5 separate regions of the Homo sapiens genome follow, and regions 1, 2, 3 and 4 are each linked to region 5. The links come from fine-mapping of genetic effects on gene expression. A gene starts in region 5. Each other region holds a variant in brackets. All regions are shown on one strand. Distances are between the middles of the regions.

What was found. PIP is the estimated chance that this variant, and not a neighbour inherited with it, causes the effect. A credible set is the group of variants that fine-mapping cannot tell apart.
Region 1: its variant is the best candidate, but not a certain one, in a credible set for the expression of PLCL2 in nasal epithelium (TOPMed, PIP 0.78).
Region 2: its variant is the best candidate, but not a certain one, in a credible set for the expression of PLCL2 in whole blood (TOPMed, PIP 0.50).
Region 3: its variant is the best candidate, but not a certain one, in a credible set for the expression of PLCL2 in esophagus muscle (GTEx, PIP 0.52).
Region 4: its variant is the best candidate, but not a certain one, in a credible set for the expression of PLCL2 in whole blood (INTERVAL, PIP 0.85).

The regions. Positions count from the first base shown.
Region 1 is chr3:17,006,909-17,012,013 of GRCh38, forward strand. It overlaps PLCL2 (phospholipase C like 2), which reads left to right. Exons shown (of 6, transcript NM_001144382.2): 2 at 2,766-5,105. Among named protein-coding and RNA genes, the nearest start is that of PLCL2-AS1, 45 kb to the right of the region's middle. The variant T/C (reference allele first, on the strand shown) is at 2,928.
Region 2 is chr3:17,078,125-17,083,229 of GRCh38, forward strand. The region is part of intron 5 of PLCL2 (phospholipase C like 2); the gene reads left to right. Among named protein-coding and RNA genes, the nearest start is that of PLCL2-AS1, 26 kb to the left of the region's middle. The variant C/T (reference allele first, on the strand shown) is at 2,315.
Region 3 is chr3:16,819,103-16,824,207 of GRCh38, forward strand. No RefSeq gene overlaps it. Among named protein-coding and RNA genes, the nearest start is that of PLCL2, 63 kb to the right of the region's middle. RefSeq lists an enhancer at 1,495-1,674. The variant A/C (reference allele first, on the strand shown) is at 2,606.
Region 4 is chr3:17,050,207-17,055,311 of GRCh38, forward strand. The region is part of intron 4 of PLCL2 (phospholipase C like 2); the gene reads left to right. PLCL2-AS1 (PLCL2 antisense RNA 1) reads right to left here and starts at 4,378. Exons shown (of 3, transcript NR_046640.1): 1 at 4,320-4,378. RefSeq lists an enhancer at 4,214-4,403. The variant C/CA (reference allele first, on the strand shown) is at 2,030.
Region 5 is chr3:16,882,237-16,887,341 of GRCh38, forward strand. PLCL2 (phospholipase C like 2) reads left to right here and starts at 2,719. Exons shown (of 6, transcript NM_001144382.2): 1 at 2,719-3,130. The coding sequence starts at 2,804. LOC105376972 (a long non-coding RNA gene) reads right to left here and starts at 2,106. Exons shown (of 3, transcript XR_002959616.2): 1 at 1,609-2,106; 2 at 1,170-1,334; 3 at 692-1,028. RefSeq lists enhancers at 863-1,571, 2,574-3,069, 3,070-3,569 and silencers at 1,872-2,541, 2,752-3,081.

The sequences.
Region 1 (5,105 bases), 120 kb after region 5:
GAAATGTATCATTTATAACAAATTAGAAAGTGTAACAGAATATTAATCAGCCTGTAAAAATGAAAGAATAAAAGATTACAATGTTGGGAAAATACTATATATTTCTTAATGGATCAGTGGATAAACCACATCCATATATTTTTGTAATTGTTCTACTAGTGTCATCTTTGAGACACGATATATAAAGATTATAAAATTCCCTAACTGAGTCAGTATGTTGTCTTTATCAAAGGTAAATGCGTCTTTTAAAAACTAAAGACATCGGTCAGGCGTGGTGGCTCACACCTGTAATCCTAGCACTTTGGGAGGCTGACGCAGACGGATCACGAGGTCAGGAGATCGAGACCATCCTGGCTAACATGGTGAAACCCCGTCTCTACTGGGAAAAAAAAACTAAAGACGTCATTCTGAAAAATAGAAAATTATACATTTGTTTCATGTCCTTATGCATGGCTGATTACAAAACTAATTTCATGCTAACTCACTCAAATTGATGTAATACAATCTATGCTTTAGGGATTTGAAATGGCTTTAATATAATGTATCTTACAGATACAATTACCACAGTTTTTATGTATTTTGCACTTTATTGTTCTGAGGATATAATTGTAAAGAAATATTCTACCTTGTGGCTTTTATGTTTTGTCTTGGCACCCAGATCACAAAAGCTTCTATGGTTCATTTTGAAACTTTGAGGAAAATGATACCCATATGATTTAAAGTTTAAGTTTAATTACCTTCTGCAAATTGCTTTTGGAAGTATAGGTAGTTAGAAAGTAAAAGTGGTTTTAAATTTCAGAGATAGAGTATAGCATAATAGCTTTTTAAAATACAGATATTTTCTATCCAGAGCAGGAAAATTAGAATTGCCTTTGGATAATATTCAACAATGTTCTTTTCTTTGTCATGAAAGTGATATAATTCCAACTCCCATCCCTATTTCTTATTTATAAATACAATGAATACTGAAAATTTGTCATAGATTTTATACACATACTGAAAGGCAGTATCATCTTTTAGGTTTAAAATTGTGAAAGATCTTTTGAGGTAATTTGAGCACTCTTTTCAAATAATAAAGGTCTCCATACAAGGAAGGACTTAAATACACACACAGATGTGGATGTCAGCCCCTTAAGATGAGAACATGTTACCTTAAGCAGGAAAGTTGAACAGTGCCTTACTGGTGATGCTAACTTCTTTAGAAATAAGTGCTGCCTGAAGTTTTAAACTTAGTCCTTTTAATAATCTATTAATATTAAGGTACAAGGTGACATTGTTCTGAGCATTGGGGCATAGTAATAGGTTTTAATAAATCCAACTCTACGATTTTAGGAGCTCCAACAGCTATAATCTAGCCCTTCATCTCAGACTTACATGTCTATCTGATGTATACTGATGACTGATCTAGTATGAGACTTTGGAGAGAGGAATTTCTGCTGGAATTCCCATTTAACAGTTACTTAATTGGTTTCTACTTAGCTGTTTCTCATCATTTGGTGCAAATAGTTTCCAGAAATAGTCTAGACGTCTTAGCCCAAGTAGTCAGGAAATGGTTTTTAAACTTTAGTGTACATCCTCCGTCACATGGAGTGCTACCTTGATGTAAATTCCTGGGCACCAGCCCCAGGGAGCTGGTTCCATGGGCCTAGCAATCTGCATTGTAACCAGGTAACCCAGATGATTCTGAGGCAGGTGGTCTGGTGACAAGCCTTTGAGAAGTATTGGTGTAGGAGGCGTACGTAGAAACAGGGCCTGTTTCATGGTGTATGACCTGTACAGTTGCACAGGCTTCACACTGACTCAGAAGAGCCCTGGGCTTCACTTAGCTCCTCTGTCACCTTGAAATTCTTAATAATTTTTAATCAGGGAATCCTGCATTTTCACTTTTCTCTGGGCTCTGAAAATTGTTTCTTTCTTTCTATTTTTTGAGACAGGATCTTGTTCTGTTGTCCACATTGGAGTGCTGTGGCAAGATCATAGCTCATTGCAGCCTCAATCTCCTGGGCTCAAGCAATCTTCCCATCTCAGCCCCCTGAATAGCTAGGACTACAGGCATGAGCCACCATATCTGGCTAATTAATTTTTTTTTTTTTTGAGACGGATTCTCACTCTGTTGCCCAGGCTGGAGTGCAGTGACACAATCTCAGCTCACTGCAACCTTTGCCTCACGGATTCAAACGATTCTCCTGCCTCAGCCTCCCGAGTAGGTGGGATTACAGGCACCCGCCACCATGCCCGGCTAATTTTTGTATTTTTAGTAGAGACAGGGTTTCAGCACGTTGGCCAGGCTGGTCTCAAACTTCTGACCTTGGGTGATCTGCCCCTTCTTGGCCTCCCAAAGTGCTGGGATTACAGGCATGAGCCACCATGCCCGGCCAAAAAAAATTTTTTTTTGTAGAGATGGGATCTCACTGTATTACCCAGGTTGGTCTCAAACTCCTCACCTCAAGCAATCCTCCTGCCTTAGCCTCCCAAAGTGCTGAGTTTATAGGTGTGAACCTCCGTCCCTGGCCTGAAATTGTTCTTCTTGATAAATATGAATTGCAATTATTCAATAATGATTTCATACCTGTTGGTATTAGGCTGTCAACTGCAAGGCCAATTCTGAGCTTTAGAGATGAATGAGTATCATTCATCACAGGAATCTAGAATAGGAAATCTTAATAGTATGATTTTTTTCTAGGAAATTAAATTTCTATTCATAATCTTGAACATAGAAACCTATATTTATGTTATTCTAATATACGGTCTTTTTTTCCTCTCAGGATGGTACAAAACAGAAGAGGGAACGGAAAAAGACAGTCTCATTCAGCAGCATGCCAACAGAGAAGAAGATCAGCAGTGCAAGTGATTGTATTAATTCAATGGTTGAGGGTTCAGAACTCAAAAAGGTTCGCTCCAACTCTAGAATTTATCATAGGTACTTT[T/C]TACTGGATGCTGACATGCAGAGCCTAAGGTGGGAGCCATCTAAGAAGGATTCTGAGAAAGCCAAGATTGACATTAAATCCATCAAGGAAGTGAGAACAGGAAAAAACACAGACATATTCCGCAGCAATGGCATTTCTGACCAGATATCTGAAGATTGTGCGTTTTCCGTCATATATGGAGAGAATTATGAGTCACTGGATTTGGTTGCCAACTCCGCAGATGTTGCAAACATCTGGGTTACAGGACTGCGGTACCTAATTTCTTATGGAAAACATACACTTGATATGTTAGAAAGTAGCCAAGATAACATGAGGACTTCTTGGGTTTCACAAATGTTTAGTGAAATTGATGTAGATAACCTTGGACATATAACTCTGTGTAATGCTGTGCAATGTATCAGAAACCTCAATCCTGGTTTAAAAACGAGCAAAATTGAGCTTAAGTTCAAAGAATTGCATAAATCAAAGGACAAAGCTGGTACCGAGGTCACAAAGGAAGAATTTATTGAGGTTTTTCATGAGCTTTGTACTAGACCTGAAATTTATTTCCTTTTAGTTCAGTTTTCAAGCAATAAAGAATTCCTTGATACCAAGGACCTTATGATGTTTCTTGAGGCAGAACAGGGTGTGGCACATATAAATGAGGAAATAAGCCTTGAAATTATTCACAAATATGAACCATCCAAAGAGGGTCAGGAAAAGGGCTGGCTCTCCATAGACGGGTTCACTAATTACCTTATGTCACCTGACTGTTATATATTCGATCCAGAACATAAGAAGGTCTGTCAGGATATGAAGCAACCTCTGTCTCATTACTTTATAAACTCATCTCATAATACATACTTAATAGAGGATCAGTTCCGAGGTCCCTCCGACATCACAGGATATATTCGAGCTCTTAAAATGGGTTGCCGGAGTGTTGAATTAGATGTATGGGATGGGCCGGACAATGAACCTGTAATTTACACAGGCCACACCATGACCTCTCAGATAGTTTTCCGCAGTGTCATTGATATTATTAACAAGTATGCATTCTTTGCTTCAGAGTATCCTCTTATCTTGTGTTTAGAAAACCACTGTTCCATTAAACAACAGAAGGTAATGGTTCAGCACATGAAGAAACTTTTAGGAGACAAGCTCTATACAACATCACCCAATGTTGAGGAATCTTATCTACCATCCCCAGATGTCCTGAAAGGGAAAATACTAATTAAAGCAAAGAAGCTGTCCTCAAATTGCTCTGGGGTAGAAGGAGATGTTACTGACGAAGATGAAGGAGCAGAAATGTCTCAGAGGATGGGAAAAGAGAACATGGAGCAACCCAATAATGTGCCTGTGAAGCGATTTCAGCTTTGTAAAGAACTGTCTGAACTGGTCAGCATCTGCAAATCAGTTCAGTTCAAAGAATTTCAGGTGTCGTTTCAGGTTCAGAAGTACTGGGAAGTCTGTTCCTTTAATGAAGTGCTTGCCAGCAAGTACGCCAATGAAAATCCAGGGGACTTTGTAAATTACAACAAACGTTTTCTTGCTAGGGTTTTTCCCAGTCCAATGAGAATTGATTCCAGTAACATGAATCCTCAAGATTTTTGGAAATGTGGTTGCCAAATTGTAGCCATGAACTTTCAGACACCAGGACTGATGATGGACCTGAATATTGGCTGGTTTAGGCAGAACGGAAACTGTGGCTATGTCCTCCGGCCAGCCATCATGAGGGAGGAGGTCTCCTTCTTCAGCGCCAATACAAAAGACTCTGTCCCAGGGGTCTCACCTCAACTTCTTCACATTAAAATCATCAGTGGGCAGAACTTTCCCAAGCCCAAAGGATCAGGTGCCAAAGGTGATGTGGTAGATCCTTATGTCTATGTTGAAATCCATGGAATCCCTGCTGATTGTGCAGAACAAAGGACAAAAACAGTGCACCAGAATGGAGACGCTCCCATTTTTGATGAAAGCTTTGAATTTCAAATCAACCTGCCTGAACTGGCCATGGTGCGCTTTGTAGTGCTGGATGATGACTACATTGGGGATGAATTCATCGGCCAGTACACAATTCCCTTTGAATGTTTACAGACGGGCTACCGCCATGTCCCCCTGCAGTCCTTAACTGGAGAGGTCCTTGCACATGCTTCTTTATTTGTCCACGTGGCTATTACTAACCGAAGAGGAGGAGGAAAGCCT
Region 2 (5,105 bases), 200 kb after region 5:
TAAGTGTCCTTGGATCAGGTTCTCCCCCTGCTTTAATCCACTTTGTCCAGGAAGGTATTGTCAGCACAAAATATGGCTCCCTTTAGTGGCTGTTTCGGTTATCTATTGCTGTATAACAAACCACTGCAAAACTAGTGGCTTGAAACAATGACTTCTCATTTCTCGTGATTCTTGGGTTAGCTGGGCTCAGCCAGATGGTTTTGCTGCTCCATGTGATATTAGCTGGGATCACTTAAGAGATTTGTTCTGCTGGGAACTCAGCTTGGCCTGGAACATCGAAGAAGGTACTCACATGGCTGGATCTCATCTGGGGTGGCTGGGATGGCTGGGCTTTTTTTTTTTATAGCATCTATATCGTATCTTGGACTTGAATTAAGCTTGTTACAACCGAAGATGTTTTCCAGATGAATGGCTGCCAGGCTAGCTCTCCTGACCTGTGCCCCTCTACCATCAGAAACAAGGCTATCAATAAACCCTAAAAGTAATTAGAGATTCATTCTCTTTAGGAACCTAAAACTTCTGCCAAAACATAAATCAATAAACCAGATGGTTTTTGCACCTGGTAGACATTTGTCTTGATTTTCTTCATTTTTACCTGAGGTACAGTGCTTATCTTGAAGACTTAAAGACTGGCATTTGTTTCCTTTTTGAAATTACCATGATGGTTGATGTATGACTCCTTTTATTGAGGCTCATATCTTTTAGTTATTTTTATTTATTATAGGTAGTATAGTATGTTGTCTCTTTTCCTGAAAAGCTATAATTGACTGAAAGCCATTTCTCTATTTAGTGTGTGAAAATTTCTCAGAATGGCTCAGAAAATCAAACTATAGTAGCGTTTGTCATTAGGCAGGCTGTTCTTTCTGGTCCATTTGAAATACAGTAAAACCTCAAACATTGGGACCCCACTCATGTGGAGTTTGTGATTACTCAGCTAATGTTTGACTGTGTAAATGGTGTGCTTGAAAGATTAATAGCGCGAAGGAGGTGCTTACGTGCATGCTATTTTCCCTGGTGTTTCCAAGGGCTCTCACGCCCATGGCCCAGCCCCACTTGCCTCTCAGTGTCCCCTCGCTCTCTGCATCCTCTCTCTACACAGCTGGGCCACCCTCCCCTCCCCTCTGGCCCTGGTCCCTGCCTGGAACCCTCTCCTGACACCCCACCTTCTGTGCTTAGGTCATGGCTCACCTCCACTGTCTGGAGACTCCAAAGGCTGCTCCTGAATGCTAACCCTACCTCTGCCACCAGAGTGGCCAGCTCTGTGCCAGACGAGGCCACTGTCCTACTGCATGGTGGAATTTAGCCCTTCCCATGGCCAGGTCTGTAGCAGAGGGAGATGTAGTCAGTCAGAACCTAGAAAGCTTTGTAGCATAGAAATCATGCTGCTAAATGGTTGGGCTCCAGAGGTGCCATATGTTGGAGTCACGGTCACTCCTCTGTGGCAGGCAGCATCAGCCCCTGGGCCTGCCGCCGTCCTTTCCTGCCCTGAGTTTCCCCAATTCAGACACCGCCTCCTCCGTGGTGCTGCCGAGGAGCCCCCAACCCTCCGTCTTTGGTGAAGGAAAAGTAAAATTGTTTCTAAGGATGAAGGCATTCATTCTGAATTTAAAAAATTGAATCATATTTAAAATTATTAACTTTTGTACAAACCTCTGAGCACAACCATGGGAAAATTGGAGACTAACTGTGAATGTGATGACAGCCCAAATATAGGCAAAAAGTGTGGCAGGCAAAGGGAGCCACATGGAAAGTCAGATCCATGCAGCCCACTATCCCTTCATCATCAAGACACTGCCTCGAACCACAGAAACATCTCTTTGGATCCAGCAAAAACCAAGGGCAGGAGCTGTGCTTAGAGGGCTCTCCTTTCCGCTCCTGCACAGAACCCTTCATCCCCCTCTGGCAGCTTCTTTGCACCCTTTGGGGTGGAGGTCAGGGTGGAGGGAAGGCGGTCTTCCTGCTGTGGGGAGACAAGCTGATTTGCAGCTCATGTTCCATGCCCATCAAACGTGTGAGTGCACATACAGGAAGCCAAAAGGACAGAAAACATCACGCACTCTTAAAATGAGCCTAACGTCCTGTACAAAAGCCTGTGTCCTGTTGCTGTAGGTTTAGGTGACTGATGATTAGGGAGTCTTTTTTCAACCGTAAGGTTTACTGAGACTTCAGTGGGAAGTGGACCTGACCAAGCTAGGAGGCCTTCCTTAATTCTGATGAATGTGCCACGATCTCAGCCAGCCTCAAAAGAACTCTTGAAAGGGGAACTATCAATGTATAATAATGAGAGGCGATTTAGAATCCGTAGCCAAGACTC[C/T]TACAATCCATTCATTCTTCTTTTTTTTTCCAGACGGAGTCTTTCTCTGTCCCCCAGGCTGGAGTGCAGTGGTGTGATCTTGGCTCACTGCAACCTCCACCTCCCGGGTTCAAGTGATTCTCCTGCCTCAGCCTCCCGAGTAGCTGGGATTACAGTCGCCCGCCACCATGCCTGGCTAATTTTTGTATTTTTAGTAGAGACAGGATTTCACCATGTTGGCCAGGCTGGTCTTGAACTCCTGACCTCAGGTGATCCGCCCACCTCGGCCTCCCAAAGTGCTGGGATTACAGGTGTGAGCCACCACACCCGTTTCATTCTTTTGTTCACTCATTCCTCATTCAACAAACACACAGTGGAAATCCATATTTCTGTTTCTGCTTTTAATCACAGGAAGAGTGAATTGTCTACACAGTTGTTGATGTGCTGGATACATGAAAAATGTAGTGTGTGTTTCAACCTGCTTGCTTTAAAATATTGCATGCAGTCTGTGGGGTTCAACTCTCTATAGTTGTGGCCTCACAGTTTAGTTTATCCAACAGGAAAATAAAACAAACATACCAGAGAGAAAGGTGTGTGTGTTTCAGTGTGATTTGCTGTTCAGACTCTACCCGTAATCTCTCTAAACTCAGTGTCCTTTTTATGAAACGAGAATGGTAATAGCACTTCCCTTGCATCCCCTCTTTGTGGAGCAGGTGGTATCAGTGAAGGTATCTAAATTCTGCTGTGTTCCTCTCTGCATTCCCAAATAGATAAGAAAGACAGGAAGGAGGAGTATTTTTGTGCCTCAGACTCCCATAATGGTATGAGTACCCTCCTCCTTCTCCTCCCTCACACTGCATGTGATTTGGAAGAAAAGTGTCTGCTGGCCCCCAGGGAATGGAAGGTGCTAATCTTTGCTGTCTTCAACATCCAAGCATGTGGCCATTACACAGGTGGCAGAGGGCAGGGGAAGTCTTAGCTGCCGCACTGGATCCCTCACCTCAGAAGTAAGACAACTGTTTTTCTCTAATAGATAGTTGGACAAAAGGACTTTGAAAAAATTAGCCAGATGTAGAATCCCTGTTGTTTTGCCCCTACGTCTGAATAAAAGCAATGACTTGTGATTGTTAAATGGCTCCTAAAATGTAGCACTAACAGATGTGTCTTGAAATATTTTTAATATATTAAAAACTAGAACATCTTTTGTGGTCATACAGAAAGTATGGTGATTAGCCGAGGGTTGAGCACAGCTGGGGTGCGGTTCTGGCATTTGGAGCTGCCATCATTCTTTTCCTGGCTGCTCTGGCCTCTGATCCAATCCCAGGTAAGCCACAGGCTCAGCCAGAAAAAGCACAGTCACGCCAGACTCGCAGCAAGAGCTGCTGGGATCCAGCCACTGCCCTTAGTTACATCTTTTAAAGATTACTTTCTGGGCCTAAGTAAGAACCTTAAATATTTTGACCTAAGGTTGTTATAACTCTTTCAAGATGAAAACAAAATAGAATAAGTTAAAAAAATTCAAACCAGAATGTGCGAAATCAAATGACATTTGAGTTGTTCAACTGAAAACATTGCAAAGCCAGCTTTGTGGAAGGAGTCTTCAAAACCAGACACCCTGTGTCAGTGGGTGGCAGTGTTTTAAGTAACCTTTGCTCTTTTCAAGTCTTTTGAAGCAATGAAATATGAACACTGCTACAACAAACACCCCCACCTCTTTCAGAGTTTTTTTTTTTTTTTTTTTTTGAGACAGAGTTTTGTTCTTGTTGCCCCGGCTGGAGTGCAATGGTGTGGTCTCAGCTCACTGCAACCTTTGCCTCCTGGGTTCAAGCAATTCTTGTGCCTCAGCCTCCCAAGTAGCTGGGTTTACAGGCACCCGCCACCATGCCAGCTAATTTTTTTTTTTTGTATTTTTAGTAGAGACGAGGTTTCACCGTGTACTCCTGACCTGAGGTGATCCGCCCGCCTCGGCCTCCCAAAGTGCTGGGATTACAGGCATGAGCCACCGCGCCTGGCCAGAATTGTTCTTCACTCATGCTACATGCCTTACCTCCAAGACATCTTAAACATGTAGTCTTAGACACATAGAACAAAATGAAAGTGATGTGGACAAAGTTCAGCAGCTCCTCAAGCCCAGATTTATTGCCTTTGGGAGTCCTTTGTGTCTCGCCTTGGTAATGTCCAAAGGCCTATTCTGTTTAAGATACCATGATTACTTCTCTGAAGTTGAGAAACATAAGATTCAACCAGATGAAGAATTCTGTTATTACCACATTAATTATCATATGCCATCTGGGGATTTTTGTTTTTAAATACCCTGTCATCATGTGGTAGATCTATATATGCTGACACGGAAAGATCACTAAGACATAACTTTTCGTGAAGAAAAAAGGAAACCAAAGAACAATATAGATTGCTTGATTGTATTTACATTAAAAGTAAAATAAAATACCTATTTGTAATATATATATAATGCCAAGAAAAAGACAAAACTCATTGTTTAGGGGGCAGCTGTGAGATTAAAGGGGAGACTTTCACATTTTACTTTAATTACAATACTTTAATTGCATTCAACAGATGGTTATGGAGCCCTTACTCTGTACCTGGCACTGTTCTAGGCTCTGAGGATACAGCAGTGATCAGAAGACAAAAATTCCTGCCCTCGTGAAGTTTACATTTAGTGGAAGAGACAGACAATAAACCAAGCAGTAGAGTATGGCAATAGGTGTTATGGAAAAAGCAAGGCAGGGAAGCAGTAAGGAGAATTATGGACAGGAAGTGGGAGTTCTAATTAGACAAGATGGGGCTGTCAGGG
Region 3 (5,105 bases), 63 kb before region 5:
TTTCATTTTGCAGATGAAGAAATTGAGGCCCAGAAAGAGGAAGTCATTCACTGGGGTTTTGTGAACACTGAAGTTGAACCCATATTTTCTGCCTCCTAATTCAGGGTTCATTCTCCTCCCTCATGCTTCTTCCTGAACCCTTCTGCTCAACACAAAAGCTTGCTTTTGCTTTCCTCCTGTTTTGTCCAAAGATGGGGGTGCCACATATCCTAAACATCATATTTAAAAAAAGAGAGAAAAATGCATGAAATTTTGGATTAAGTTGAGATGGGTCTGAATACCAGCACTTTTTTGGTCTCTGAGTCTGTTTTCCTCACTTACAAAAACGACTTCAATAATCCCTGCCTCTCAGGATTCAGTGAGATTCTGTACATAAAACCTAGTACACAGCCTGGCCACCCAGGACCCTCATTAATTGATGGTTTCCATAAAAATACATATTTGTATACCAATGGCAGTGACAAGATGCCATGGGCCCTTAAATAGCACATATGAATTACATAATAACTATATTCATGGAAGCTTTTCCTAACCAGGGAAAGCCAGCTAACCATAAAGCCAGCTGCCTCTGCAGGCCTTCCTCTTCACCACAGTGTTCTCTGTTAAAGTCAAGCCTAGTGAGTGGGGAGATTTACATGGCAAATTAGTGCATGAGTTTCAAGAGATAGCCTCCTCCTGCATGGGGGCTAGGAGACAGCAGTTTGACTAAATGCATTATTATTATGATATATTTTTTAAATCACAGGCTGGAAGCAACACAATTTGATGCCTTGGAATGTTCAGCTTGGTCTCTAAATATTGCATTGATATTGAATTGTCTCTTTTCCTCACAGCTGATAAAAAACTGAGATTTGTGTTTCAGATGGCAATTAATAAGGATAATCTCCATTCTTCATTTTCATTTTAATGCAGAAAGCAGTGTGTGCATTCTATGACTGATCTTGTGGTCTGCCTTTGATGGCCAGTCCCAAACACTCTTACTTATCATAGAGGCAGGCAAAGAAATGTGGCAAGACAAACCATTATTGCATAGTTTGTCAAATTTTAAAATATTTTTAAAAAGTAATGGATTAGCAGCTTTCATTATGGAGTTCTTTAGGAGAACATTTCCAACATTGCAGAAAGGTCTTATGAGCTGTTCTAGACGATAATTTCCTCAGGCTCTTCTGTTCTGTAGATCCCTGAAAATCTTGTCTAAACTGAATATCTATTAGTCAGGATAGCCTAAGTTTTGCTGCAGTAACAACTTCCAAACCTTGGTGGCTTCAAACAACAAAGGTCTATTTCTCAGTCATATTACATGTCCAATGCAGGACCTAGGTTGAGAAAGAACCCACCATCTGGAAAATTGTCAATCACTCTGGCAGAGGTAAAGAAAGTTCTGTGGGTCTTGAACCACCAATTGGTGCCCCAGATCAGAAATGACATGTCATCTTCATTAACAACCCATTGGTCAGAACAAGTCATATAATCCCACCTAGCCACTAGGGGAACCAAGAATTTCAGAGAGAAAACCTGGATATCAGTGAGCTGGTCTGTTGACATCAGTTGACATGATCACTTACTCATTTTTGCTCATGAATTTACTCAGCAGATGTTTGAATATCTGCAGGTAAGCCCTGGGCACACAGAGATGAGCAAGCAGGCATGATTCTTGTTCTTAGGGAGCTTACTAATTATTTGCCAGTAAATGACCATTAAAAGAACAATGACAGTGACAAGACATAAGTATTCTGATAAGGAAAGGACAAGATGCTTTAACATCAGCAAAGCAAGCAGTTTTCATGGGTGTCAGTAAGATAACCGGAACTATGAGTATTTGTTTCAGTTAAAGAATCCAGAATCAGCACTAGGATAGGAAAGCAGGGGCTTCTGTTTATTCTTTCAATCTCTTCATGTGCAGATTTGCTCCATTCCTGAATGAAGCCCAAGAGAAGTGTTTAGCTAGCCCCTCCCTGCCAAGTGGTCATTTTGACTGCAAATGCCTTGGGCAGGTTCCTGGAGGTTGCATGGACACTTGCCTATGTGGGCACACTAGCCCATGCTCACAAGATTCTCCATGGCACCCAGGGCTGGTGTTCCTGACACAGAGGCCGAGCTGGGCAGCAGGTGTGCAGTCCCGTCTGGATTTTCACACTGGAGAAGCCAAGAGCCCAGCGTCACTTCAGTGAGTCTCCATGGCATTGTGGATGGAGGCAGCAGGGAGGTGCCACCAGGTCCTGCCTGGATGGCTCTTGCTCCCTTCCAAGTTCCCTGGTACTTTGCCCTTATCTTCTGACCTGCCCATCCACGGAAGAGGATATGTGGCTGAGTGTCACAGTTCAGCTCCTGTTATCTGGTTTAGGGGGTCTCTACAAAGTACAAATTCATTAAATCCCCATTTCCAATGATGTGATTCTTTTTCTTTATCCTTCCCCTTAAATTCATTCATTCATTTATTCATTCAAAATAGACATGCTGGGAGACAGCATGACAGTTACAAGCCTGGACTCTGAGGCTAGACTTCCTGAGTTTGCATCCCAGCTCTGCCACTTGTAGCGTGTGACCCTGAGCAAGTTATTTAACCCTTTTGTGCCTCATCTATAAAGTGGGAATAATAATTGTA[A/C]CTACTTCAAATGCTTGTTGTGAGGATTGCATTTGTTAATAGAAGTAAAGTGCTTTGAAAGTTACCTGGCACATAGTAAGCACTCAAATTAGCTGTTATTATTATCCGTATTTCATTATTATTGTTCCTAAGTACCTGCCGAAGTGCTCAGCAGCACAGTTTTCTTTTAAAATTAGGGCTGGGGAAGATACAAAGTCAGAGAAGCAGCTGTGTAGCATGGTGGCTAAGGTACAAGCTTTGCAGTCAGCCAGACCTGGATTCAAGTCTGGGCTCTGTCATTTACTAACTGTGTGACTTTTTGTAAATTATGAAGCTAGCTCATCTGTAAAATGTGGATAATGATTCTCATGGTTTTCACAGGAATTGGCTGAGATGATGGATGTACCTCAACACTTAGCACCTATTGAACACTCAATACAGTCTGGCTGTAGAAGTAGCACTAGGGGGAGAAGAAGACAGTTAGTGGATGCTAGACAAGGAAACAAGCACATAATAGATGGTTGTTCTTGAGATGTGCAGGACAGTGAGGTGGAACCATGCAGGACAGAAGTATGGGCTCCAAAAAGGAAGCAGGGATTTCTGAGGGGGTGATCATAGAAGGTTTTTTTGTATGAGATATCATGGAAACTGGGCCTTGAAGGGTGGGTATGGATGGGTCAGGCAGGAAAGGAGGGAGGAAGCAATCCACATATAGGAAGAGGCAGGCCTTGAAGCCCAAGCTAATGTGATCTCATCTTATTGGGTAAACAATGGGGAGCCATTGAAGGATTTTGAGTTGGAGAGTGACCTGGTCACTAAGATCAAAGAAGGAAGTGGGGAAGTAACTTCACAGAGCAATGGGGCCAATTGACATGTATTCAAGTAGAGGAGATACAAATCATAACAGTGGCATTTAGAGCACTTACTGTGCGCCTGGCGCTGTCCTAAGCCTTTGATTGCATTAACTTACTAAATCTTCATAGCAATTCCGCTGAATGGGTATTCTTATTATTCCCAAGTTACAGATGATACAGAGTAGTTAAGTGACTTGCTTAAAATCACACAATGAGAAAGTCTGGGTCCAGGATTCAAACCTAGATAGCCTGGCCCTGAGCCTGTGCTCTGCTCCATGAGATGCCTGCAGTTTTGTGGGCACCAGAGAAGGACAGAGCGAAATGGAATATACAGATGATGGGAGATGTTGCTTCTCCAAGGAGGACTGATGGGAAGAGTGATTTAAAATTCATCTTGGGATATAGGAGAACCCTGGTTCTCTGAAACATTGAAGAGGAACTATGAGTAGAAGAAGGCAGTGTAGGATGAGGGCAGCTGAGGGACCTCCTGGGAAGTAGCTTAGATGTTCTAACTTGAGGAAGAGTTGAGAGGGAGGTGGCAGAAGGGTGGTGCTTATTGGGGGTTTATTTAAAAAAGGGAGCTTTTGAAATAGAGTCCCTGACCATATAACCTAACAAAAGGTTTGTTGTGCCAGGCTAGGCACTTTCTGGGAGGGCAGTGCAGCCAGAACTGAACTGGCTGCCCAATTCCAAGCTCTGTCATTTTCTAGCTGTGTGACTTTAGGCATGTCACTTAACTTCTCTGTGTCTCAGTTTCCTCGTTTGGAAAATGAAGCTACTTACCTCATAGGGTTGTTAAGAGGATTGGACCTGCTAGTTAACGGAGAGCAGTTAGGCCTTAGGATAGTTATCCCTATGCAAGTGGTAGCTACAATTATGGTTGTTGTTATTTTTTTTTACAATGCCAGAAATATTTTTAATAGTTTTACTGAAGTATAAGTGGTATGCAAAGAATTACAGATATGTAATGTGCAGAATTTGATGAGTTTAGACATATGCAAAAACCCGTGATACCATCACTGTGATCAAAATAATAGTCACATCCATCACCTCCCAAAGTTCCCTTGTGTCCTTTTGTTTTTGGGGTGTGTGTGTGTGTGTGTGTGTGTGTTAAGAACATTTAACATGAGATCTTCCCTCTTATCAAAATTTGAAGTGTCTAATACAGTATTGTAAATTATAGGCGCTATGCTGTGCAATAGATCCCTAGAACTTAATCATCGAGCAGAACTAAAATTTTACACCCATCGAACAACAACTCTCCACTTTCCCAGTCCCCAACCCCTGGAAACCACTATTGTATTCTATGCTTCTGTGAGTTTATTATAGATAGCTCATACAAGTGGAATCATTGGCAGAAATCCTGACAGCTCAGGGCAGAAAGGGAATAGTTGTAGCTGGTGGCCCAGGCCTCTCAGGGCGAGCCCCACAGCCTGGTGGCTGGAGTACAAGAGCTTCCATGATGTTTCAGGTTGCAGGTGTGCAATGACTACCTTTGGTCAATGAACTTTCTTCTTTTTCTGGTGACAAATTCCAGAATCACCGAGGAAGCCTTTTGATTCTAATTCCTATTGTGAGAACAGATGTGTTCAGTAGCGTGCTTACTAAATAAGATACCAAGCCGAGGGGAAACATGGAGGCTTATGAAAAAATGCCAGGTACACTAA
Region 4 (5,105 bases), 170 kb after region 5:
CTGTGAAACTACTGCAAGAAAACATTGGGGAAACTTTCCAGGCATTGGATTAGGCAACGATTTCTTGAGTAATACCCTACAAGCACAGGCAACCAAAGCAAAAATGAACAAATGGGATCACATCAAGTTAAAAGGCTTCCACACAGTAAAGGAAACAAACAACAAAATGGAGAAATAACACACTGAATGGGACAAGGAATTAATAACCCGAGTATATAAGGAGCTCAAACAACTCTGTAGGAAAAAAAGTCTAATAATCCAATTTTAAAATGGGCAAAATGTTTAATAGGAATTTCTCAAAAGAAGACATACAAATGAAAAACAGGCATATGAAAAGGTGCTCAATATCATTGATCCTCAGACAAATGCAAATCAAAACTAAATGAGATATCATCTCACTGCAGTTAAAATGGCTTTTATCCAAAAGTCAGTCAATAACAAATTCTGGCGAGGCTGTGGAGAAAAGGGAACCCTCATACATTGTTGGTGGGAATGTAAATTAGTACAACCATTATGGAGAGCAGTTTGAAGGTTCCTCAAAAAAACTAAAAATAGAGCTACCATATGATCGAGCAATCCCACTGCTGCATGTATACCCAAAAGAAAGGAAATCAGTATATCAAAGAGATACCTGCACTCCCATGTTTTTTGCAGCATTGTTCACACTAGCCAAGATGTGGAAGCAACCTAAGCATCTACCAACAGTTGAATGGATATTGTGTGTGATACTTATACACAATGGAGTGCTATTCAGCCATGGAAAAGAATGAGATCCTATCATTTGCAACATGGATGGAACTGGAAGTCATTATGTTAAGTGGAATAAGCCAAGCACAGAAAGACAAACATCACATGTTCCCAATTATTTTTGGAATCTAAAAATCAAAACAATTGAACTTAATGGAGATAGAGAATGGAAAGATGGTTACCCGAGGCTGGGAAAGGCAATGGGAGGTCAGGGCGGGGGAGGTGGGGATGGTTAATGCGTACCAAAAAATAAAAGTTAGGAAGAACGAGTAAGACCTAGTATTTGATAGCGCAACAGGGGTGCTGTAGTCATTAATAATTTTATTGTACATTTTAAAACAATGAAGAGTATTATAGGATTGTTTGTAACACAAATGATAAATGCTTATTAAGTGGATAGATATTCCATTTTCCATTATTATGCATTACATGCCTGTATCAAAACATGTCACGTACCCCATAAGTATATATACCTGCTATGCACCTATAAAAATTTAAAATAAAAATAAAATTTAAAAAAACCATTGAGGAGAAAGGATATCTGCCTGAACAGGTGTTTAATGAAGCTGAAAGTACCCTGTTCTGGGGGGAAAAAAAAGTCACAGTGGAGAATTGTTAGTAAGGAAGAGAAGCAAACAGCAGGATTTAGGGCAGGAAAGGATAGGCTAACTCTACTGTTTTGTGCAGATGCAGTCAGGTTTATGGTCAGGACTGCCCCCATCTATAAAGCTGCTAATGCCCAAGCCTTAAAGGGGAAAGATAAACACCAGCTGCCAGTCTTTTGGTTGTACAACATGGAGGCCTGAACAACAAGAGCTTCTTCTATATTAGTTTCATGATGCTTTGTTCCTGAAGTCAGGAAGTACCTTGCCAGTAAGGGAATGCCTTTTAATTTTCTTTTGATATTGGACAATGCCCTTGGTCACCCAGAACCCCATGAGTTCAACACTGAAAGCCATGAAATGGTCTCTTTTCCCCCAAGCACAATGTCTCCAAGTCAGCATGTAGATTAAAGGGTCATAAGTACCTTTAAGGCTCATTACAGAGGATGCTATATGGAAAGGATTATTAATGCTGTGGAAGAGAACCCCCAATAGAGAGGACATCATACATGTTTAGAAGGATTCAAAATCCTGTTGAAGATACCATTGTTGCTACAGAAAAATCCATGAAAGTCATCGAGTCCAAAACAATAAATTCCTGCTGGAGAAAACCGTCCAGATGTTCACACGATTTATAACAGAGCTGCTGAAAGAAATCATGAAATAGATTGTGAATATGG[C/CA]AAAAAAAAAAAAAAAAATTGGGGGGGGGTGAAGGTCTCAGGTTATGGATTTTGGAGAAAATCAAGAGCTCATGGACACCACACCAGAGGAATTAACAGAAGATAACTTGACGGAGATGAGTGCTTCCAAACCAGTGCCAGACAATGAAGAATATGTAGAAGAAGCAGTGCCCCCAAACAAATTGATATCAGACAATCTGGAAGAAGGGTTCCTATTATTCAAGACTGCTTATGACTTCTTTTATGACAAAGATCCTCCTGATGATACTGGCACTGAAACTAAAGCAAAAAGTGGAAGAAGTACTGGTACTGTATGGAAGCATTTTTAGAGAAGTGAAAAAGCAAAAAAGACAGAAATTGCAATGCATTGCTGTAAAGTTACACTGAGTGTGCCTGCCTCCCCTGCCTTTCCTTCTGCCTCCTCCACCTCTTCTGCCTCTGCCACCTCTGAGACAGCAAGACCAACCCCTTCTCTCCTTCCTTCTCCTTAGCCTACTCTGCTAGAAGATGATGAGGATGAAGACCTTTGTGATGATCCACTTCCACGTGATAAATAGTAAATACATTTTCTCTTCCTCGTGATTTTCTTAATGTTTTCTTTTCTTTATCTTACCTTATTGTAAGAATATAGTACATAATACATATCATATACAAAATATGTGTTAATCAACTGTTTATGTTACCAGTAAAGCATCCATCAGGTCCAAAGTAGGCTATTATTAGTAAACTTTTTGGGGAGTCAAAAGTTACATGCAGATTTTTGACTGCATGCAGAGTCAATGCCCCTAACACCCCTGTTGTTGAAGGGTCAATTATATTTGCAAATGGAAACCTGAGAGCCTTATAACTTTTTGTTTTGTATTAGTCTGTTCTCGTACTGCTATAAAGAAATAACTGAGACTGGGTAATTTAGAAAGAAATGGGCTCATGCTTAATTGGCTCATGGTTCCACAGGCTGTACAGGAAGCATGATGCTGGCATCTTCTCAGCTTCTGTGTAGGTCTCAGGAAACTTACAATCATGGCAGAAGGTGAAGGAGAAGCAGGCCCATCTTACATGGCTGGAGCAGGAGGGTTGGAGGAGGTGATGCGCTCTTTTAAACAACCAGATCTCATGAGAACTCAAAAGGGGGGATGGTGTTGAACCATTCATGAGAACTCTGCCCCATGATTCAGTCACCTCCCACCAGGCCCCACCTCTAGCACTGGGGGTTATGTTTCAACATTAGATTTGGGTGGAGACACAGATTCAAACCATTTATTCTGCCCTGGCCCCTCCCAGATCTCATGTCCTTCTCACATTTCAAAATACAATCATCCCTTCCCAATAATCCCCCAAAGTCTTAACTCATTCCAGCATTAACTCAAAAGTCCAAAGTTTGATCTGAACAAGGCAAGTCCCTTCCACCTATAAGCCTGTAAAATCAGAACAAGTTACTTACTTCCAAGTTACAATGGGGATATAGGGATTGAGTAAATAATCCCGTTTCGAAAGGGAGAAATCAGCCAAAAGAAAGGGACTACAGGGAGCAGTGTCCAGGGGCTGTACAGAGCAGCTGGGCCCTGGACCTGGTCCATGAAACCATTCTTCCTGCCTAGGCCTCAGGTCTGTGATAGGAGGGGCTGTCAGGAAGGTCTCTGAAATACTTTTCAGGCCTTTTCCCCATTGTCCTGACTATTAGTATTTGCCTTTTAGTTATAAAATTTCTGCAGCCTGCTTGAATTCCTCCTCTGAAAATGGGCTTTTCTTTTCTACCACATGGCCAGGCTGCAAATTTTTCCAACTTTTATGCTCTGTTTCCCTGTTAAATATAAATTCCAGTTTCAGGTCATTTCTCTTCCTGTGCATATGAGCATAGGTTGTTAGAAGCAGCCAGGCTACATCTTGAACACTTTGCTGCTTAGGAATTTCTTCTGCCAGATATCCTAAATCATCACTCTCAAGTTCAAGGTTCCACAGATCCCTAGAGCAGGGATACAGTGCAGCCAGGCTCTTTGCTAAAGCATAGCAAAAGTGACCTCTACTCCAGTTCCCAATAAGTTCCTCATTTCCATCTGAGACCTCCTGAGCCTGGACTTCATTGTCCATGTCACTATCAGTATTTTGGTCACAACAATTTAACAAGTCTCTAGGAAGTTCCAAACTTTCCCTCATCTTCCTGTCTTTTTCTGAGCTCTCCAAACTGTTCCAACTTTTGCCCATTACCAGTTCCAAAGCTGCTTTCACATCTTCAAGCAATGCCCTGCTTCTCAGTATCAGTTTCTGTTTTATGAGGCTTCAGGAAACTTACAGTCATGGTGGAAGGCAAAGCAGGAGCAGTCATCTTCACATGGCCCAAGCAGGAGAAAGAGAGTGGGGAGGTGCCATACATTTTTAAACAACCAGATCTCTTGAGAACTTACTATATACTACCAAGGGGGGATGGTGCTAAACCATTTATGAGAATGCTACCCCCATGATCCAATTACCTCCCACCAGGACCCACCTCCAGCACTGGGGATTATATTTCAACATGAGATTTGGATGGAGACACAGATCCAAATCGTATCAGTTCTCATTTATGTCAGAATGTTTCTCAGCTCTGTTTTACAGAAGTGAAAGGTTCTTTCCTGGGAATTGAGAGACCCATGTTCTGGTGCCCTCTGTACCATGTCCCTGCTGTGTGACTTTAGTTTAGTCACTTGACCCTCTCTGCCTCATTTTCCTTCTTCTAAGTGGCAGTGGATTATGTGATTCCCTGATGGCCCTATGCCTTCTAAATTACAGTGAACTAAGATCAGTTACATAAACAGCAATTTGGGAATGGCTGGATTACAGTTACTGAAAAAGATTAAAAGATTAAACAAGTCATCCCATACAATGTTACAGGACACATAAATTGTAGCCCATCATCATTACTTTCAAGGAGGAAAGTTAACACTTTGAAGATGAGACACAGGAAACCTGCATCAGACTCCCAGGCCCCATTTGAAATCCACAGCATCTTTTCTCTTAAAGACTGGATATTGAACCACCACATCTTCTTTTAGGCATTTACTAATTAATTAACTAATAATTAGTGAAGTCAAGGGAAGAA
Region 5 (5,105 bases):
GGAACATGCTGCTTCCCTTCACCATGTCTGAGATAGGGTACCTACAGTTGGGCTGTTTGTGGGATGAAGAAGTGCTTCTATAACATCAGCAGGCGTGTGACCAGTGGCTTGTGGGAGACAAGCACTTATGGGAATAAAAGGGAACCTGGCACAGGCCTTGGGCCTCTGGCATCATTAGTTACAGGTCTGCCAAGATGCTTTGGGAAACATTTTAATTTAAATGCCAAGTCTATTTCAACGAAGCTCCCTGGTATGACCTGTTGGGAGTCCAGAGTGAGATGGATAGGTGCTCACTTTGGAGGGCACTGGTGAATCAGCTGGTGCTTCTATAAAAAGCATACTGGGGGTTAAACATCACTAAGTCCCTACTCAGCCCAGGAAAATCACAGTGAGAGCCATGGGATCTATGGCTTTCATAGCATTTTACTAGTGACTCGTAAATGCAGGAAAGATTAGATACTAACACACAAAAGGCAGAGACACCTCTGGGTGTTTATTCAAAATATCAAACTTAGAGAACTTGAAGAATAAAGACCCCAGCATTCTTTTTTCCTCCCCCGAAGCATACTCACAGGCTACTATGACTATAAATTTAATAAAGCAGAGTTAAGAGCCTGATTTGAATTATTTCAATATTTTTCCTCCAAAACTATCACAAGACAGAAAAAATAAACATTTTGAAACACAACGAGAAAAAAGAAAGAAAAGAGCTGAGACTGAATAAAACACTAAGCATTGTCCTTCGATGTAAAAAACTATTTCTGTTAGTGTGTAGGCCCAGGTTGGAAAGAGATGTACAAAAACACGAATTCAGAGGATCGGAAGAATTAAAACGCCCCCAAGAATAACATGAAAGTATTTGATGTTGCTTCAGGGGCAAGGGCGAGTATGTATATGTACGTAAATCCATTTCCTCAGAGGCTCCTTGGCAGTCTGTTACAACACCACGCTAATGAAAGCCAGGTCTTTAAGTTCACCCCGCCTCTGGACTATTAGTTTCTCCTTTGCGCCCTGCGGGGACTGCATTCCTGGAAATGAAAGCACACGAGTTGGGGAAGGGCTGGGGTGCCAGAGAGGGTAGGAAGCTGGAGCCCACGGAGCCTGGGATGGAGAGGTGGGTGGGCCCAGGCCTGGGGCGTGGGGTGGCGGTGGAAGGTCTGGGGTCTCACCCTTCGGAGTTTTGAGTCTTGTCTGGCTCCAGGGAGGGAGATCCAGGGGAGATATTTACGAACGGAAGCCACACGATCAGCTTGGACTTTTAGGCCAGTCACTCCGCCTTAAGTGGGTGCGTGAGAACCAGAAGAGGGACTGGCTGTAGCGCTGCAAGTGAGATCCTGTCCCAAAAGATGAGCCTGACTTAGGCTGGGCCCCGCAGGCCGGCAGGGCCAGCCGGCATCCCTGGTAGGGGAATCGGGAAGGTCTCAATGATAAATCTGTGTGTGGAGACTCAGAGGGCACGAAATAGGCTCTGCTGATGTCCTCTGCCCCTCATAGCCTGCCAGCCACCCCAGCCTTCACCCCTGCCTCAGCATCCTTCCAACTAGTTGAATCAATCAGGAGCCCAAGGGAAAGGAATTGGTCCCAGTGTATGAAATGAGTCTGACCTACTGGGGAAGTCAGAGAGGAGTGTCCCGAACTGGGTGGGAAGGAAACGAGTTCCGTGCGCGGGGCTGGGGCAGGAGTGAGGCGCAGCGGCCGAGATCCTGAGCCCCGGGACCCTTGTTCCGGGCCCCGAGGCCTACTTGGTAGTTGCCCCTCGGGGTTCCGGGTGGGTGACTGACAGTTGCAGCAGCTCTGGGGAGGCGAAGGATAGGCAATGACTTGGGGCTCCCGTCCACTCGGCTTTGAGGTCCCCGCGGCCCGATGACCCGGCCTCGGTGACAGCAGCCGCGACGGCGGCAATCTCGACAGGGAGCTAGGCGGCTCATGGTGGGTCAGGGGGCGACCGAGGAGGGACCACGCGGCCTGTAGGGGGCAGCGCCGAGCTCGGGAGGAGACAGCAGCCGGCGGGTGGGGTGGGTCTGGGCTGCCCCCTCCGGGAGCTGCCCCGGGGCCGCACGGCGATTGTCATACCCGGCCGCCCCTGCCCGCCGTGGGCTTCCTCTCGGCGCCGCGGGCCTTAACGGGGCTCTGAGGGGACGTGACAGAGCTCGGCACGCGGCAGCCTCTGGGGAGTTAGGGTCCGGAGAGACCCACGCGTCGCCCCCCGCCCGCCCGGGGCCGGGAGATCCTCGGGAGCCGCCTCCGCGTGTCCAGAGAGTGTCGGGGCGGCCGCCACTTCCCCTCGCCCTTCGCCGGAGGTGGGCGCCTTTTCCTGCGTGGCGGGTGCTCCGACCCCAGTTGCTCTGAGCCCCGGGGAAGCGCGCCCCGAGCCCCTGACGTGGGCGCCCCGTTACCTCGGGGTGGGTGCCTGGGGCCCCTGAGGTGGGCGCGGGTTGCCCCGGGGTGGGCGCCCGGCCCGCGCGGGTTATTTTTGGCGCCCGCAGAGGCGCGTGTGTTGGGGCGTGTTTTCCTTCCCCAGGTGCCGAGAGCCGGGGCTCCGCCGGCGCCGGAGCTGACTCGTCTCTCTCTTCTTTCCCCTGCAGGAATCTTCCGATAATTCTGCCGCCGCGACTTTAACCGTGCGCAAGGCGAGAGCTCGAAACAAACATCACATCTAAATTAAAAAAAAAAAAAAGCGGAAGAAGCGGCCGAGGCGGCGGCGGGAGGAGAGGAGGAGGGGCCGCGCGCGGCGGCCCGAGGCGGCGGCGGGGACGCGGGGACGCGAGGACGCGGCTTTGTGCAGGCGGGTCGCGGGGCGCCCATGGCGGAGTGCGGCCGGGGGGGCGCCGCCGGCGGGGCCCTGCCCACCTCCCCGGGCCCGGCCCTCGGCGCCAAGGGCGCCCTGAAAGCCGGAGTGGGGGAAGGCGGTGGCGGGGGAGGTCGCCTCGGCCACGGGCGGGCGCGCTATGACAGCGGCGGGGTTTCCAACGGAGACTGCAGCCTCGGCGTGTCCGGGGACGAAGCCCGGGCTAGCCCTACCAGGGGACCCCGCGGCGTTGCGCTCGCCCCGACCCCCAGCGCGGTCGTCTGTACCCTCCCCCGGGAGAGCAAGCCGGGCGGCCTGCCCCGCCGGAGCAGCATCATCAAGGTAGGTGGGAGAAGGGCGCTCATCGCCCACCCTCAGCCGTCCTTGGATTCTATTTTCTCCCTGGGGGAGTGGTGGTGGAAGGAGGAAGCCCACTGCTAACAGGAACCACTGGAGCATGGGTGCTTGGGGTGGTTGAGCGGGGATTGGATGCAAATGGCATGTGGAAAGAATGGAGAGGTGATCCCTAATGTGCAGGGGGAGCTGTGCTCAGACATCCTCAGTTGAACTTGGGGCTGTCACCTCTTCCAGGATTGGTCTGGCATTAGGGCCTTGTACCTGCCGGGGTAGGGCATACTCTTATGTGTAGCCTAGTCTGGTTAACAGACTCCCTGTAAGATTTCTATTGTATCTTAAACACAGATAGGGATTATGTGAAATGTGAGAACATTTTCTTAAAAATCCCAGGCGGCGAACAGAGGGTGAACAGAGATTATTTAATAGGGTTCTTCTGATCCGTATACAGTTAGTTGGCTCTTACAAATGTTTACACTTCGAGGGTGCAAAATCTCCTAATATCCGGTCACTCAGTCACAAAGAAAAATAGAGTAGATTTCTGAACATAAATGCAGATTTCCGCTTTCTTAGGCTCAAAAGCTCAGAGATTACAGTTCCACACGATTTAATCTTTTTCCTTGCTGCAGTAGGCAGGCCTCGAGTACTGTGGAAGTTCTTTTGGGCAGTTTGCTTGGTTTTGCTTGCACAGTGTTAGCGGAAGAAAGCCAGCGATTGTTTTGAGCATTTTAAACTCAAGAAGTAATATTAGGAACTCCCGAGTTTGTGTTAGTTTCATTCTAATGTTACATTTTGGTTCGCAATGTAAAAATATTTTTCATGACATGAAGTGCAAAAAAAAATAGTTGATGAGCTAAGAAGAGCAGAGCCTTAGGCAAGACCAGCTCATTCGGCTCGCTCAAGTTTGGAGCAAATGAAAACATTGCTTTCTGAAAATCAAGGAGTTATCAGGACAGGGAGCAGCAAAGCAAATTGACAGGCTGCACCCACCCTTCCTGTGGCTGATAACTGGTGGGAGGGCAGAACGTGCCACAGTAAAGAGAGTTGGCAGTGGTGGTATCTGAAATTTTATTGGACCTACAGAAATCTTCCAAGTACTGTGAAAATGTCTGATGGTGTTATCAACTTATGCAGTAATCTAGTGAAATATACCATCTTGCTACTCTATGTAAGAGGCAATTGTGAAACTGCATTTCCCTTTGTCATCTGTTTGCGCAGTTTATGTCTGGGCAAGGACACAATTTGAAGGGTTTGGAGATGAAGTGTATTAACTACCTGCAGCACACACGTAGAGATAAACTAAGGAAAGTAAAGTGTCTTTTTGCTGCATACATAGCTTTTAGTGACTTACGTTTTCTTTTACTCTGTAGCTTATGTTTCCATGGAAGTTGCTTTCAACTGTGCATGATAATCAATCCTATTGACAGAGTTAGGTGACATTTCTGTTTTTATTTGTCATAAAATATTTGTGGTGATTTTGCATTGTGGTGTTAATAAAATTTGAGGTGAAAATTCCAAAGAAGATACCAGCCTACCTAATTTTAACCCCTTTCTTTTAATTGTTTTGAATACTTGTTTTTGCATTAAAAAATCAAACTTTATTAGTGTCCATAGTGAGATTCATAGTGTAACTTACTGAATTACAAAAACATTTGTTTTAATTTTACATTACTGGGCGATAAGCAAGAAGGATGATTTGTTAGTATTTCTGATATATGGAATTGGGAACTTGTCAATAGATACCATTTCTTAATTGAAGGCTCTAGAAGCACATGGGGGAAATGATTAATGTTCAAAAATCACTGATTTTAGAAATGATATTGATACTTATGTTGAATTCTGAAACTTTTAAGGATATTTTGTCATTTTTCTTCTTTGTAAAGAAAGCATTTGGCTTCTTGTTCACCAGTGTAACCCTAGATATAAAGTGCCAGGAATGTAGTAGCAGCTCAATAAATTGCTT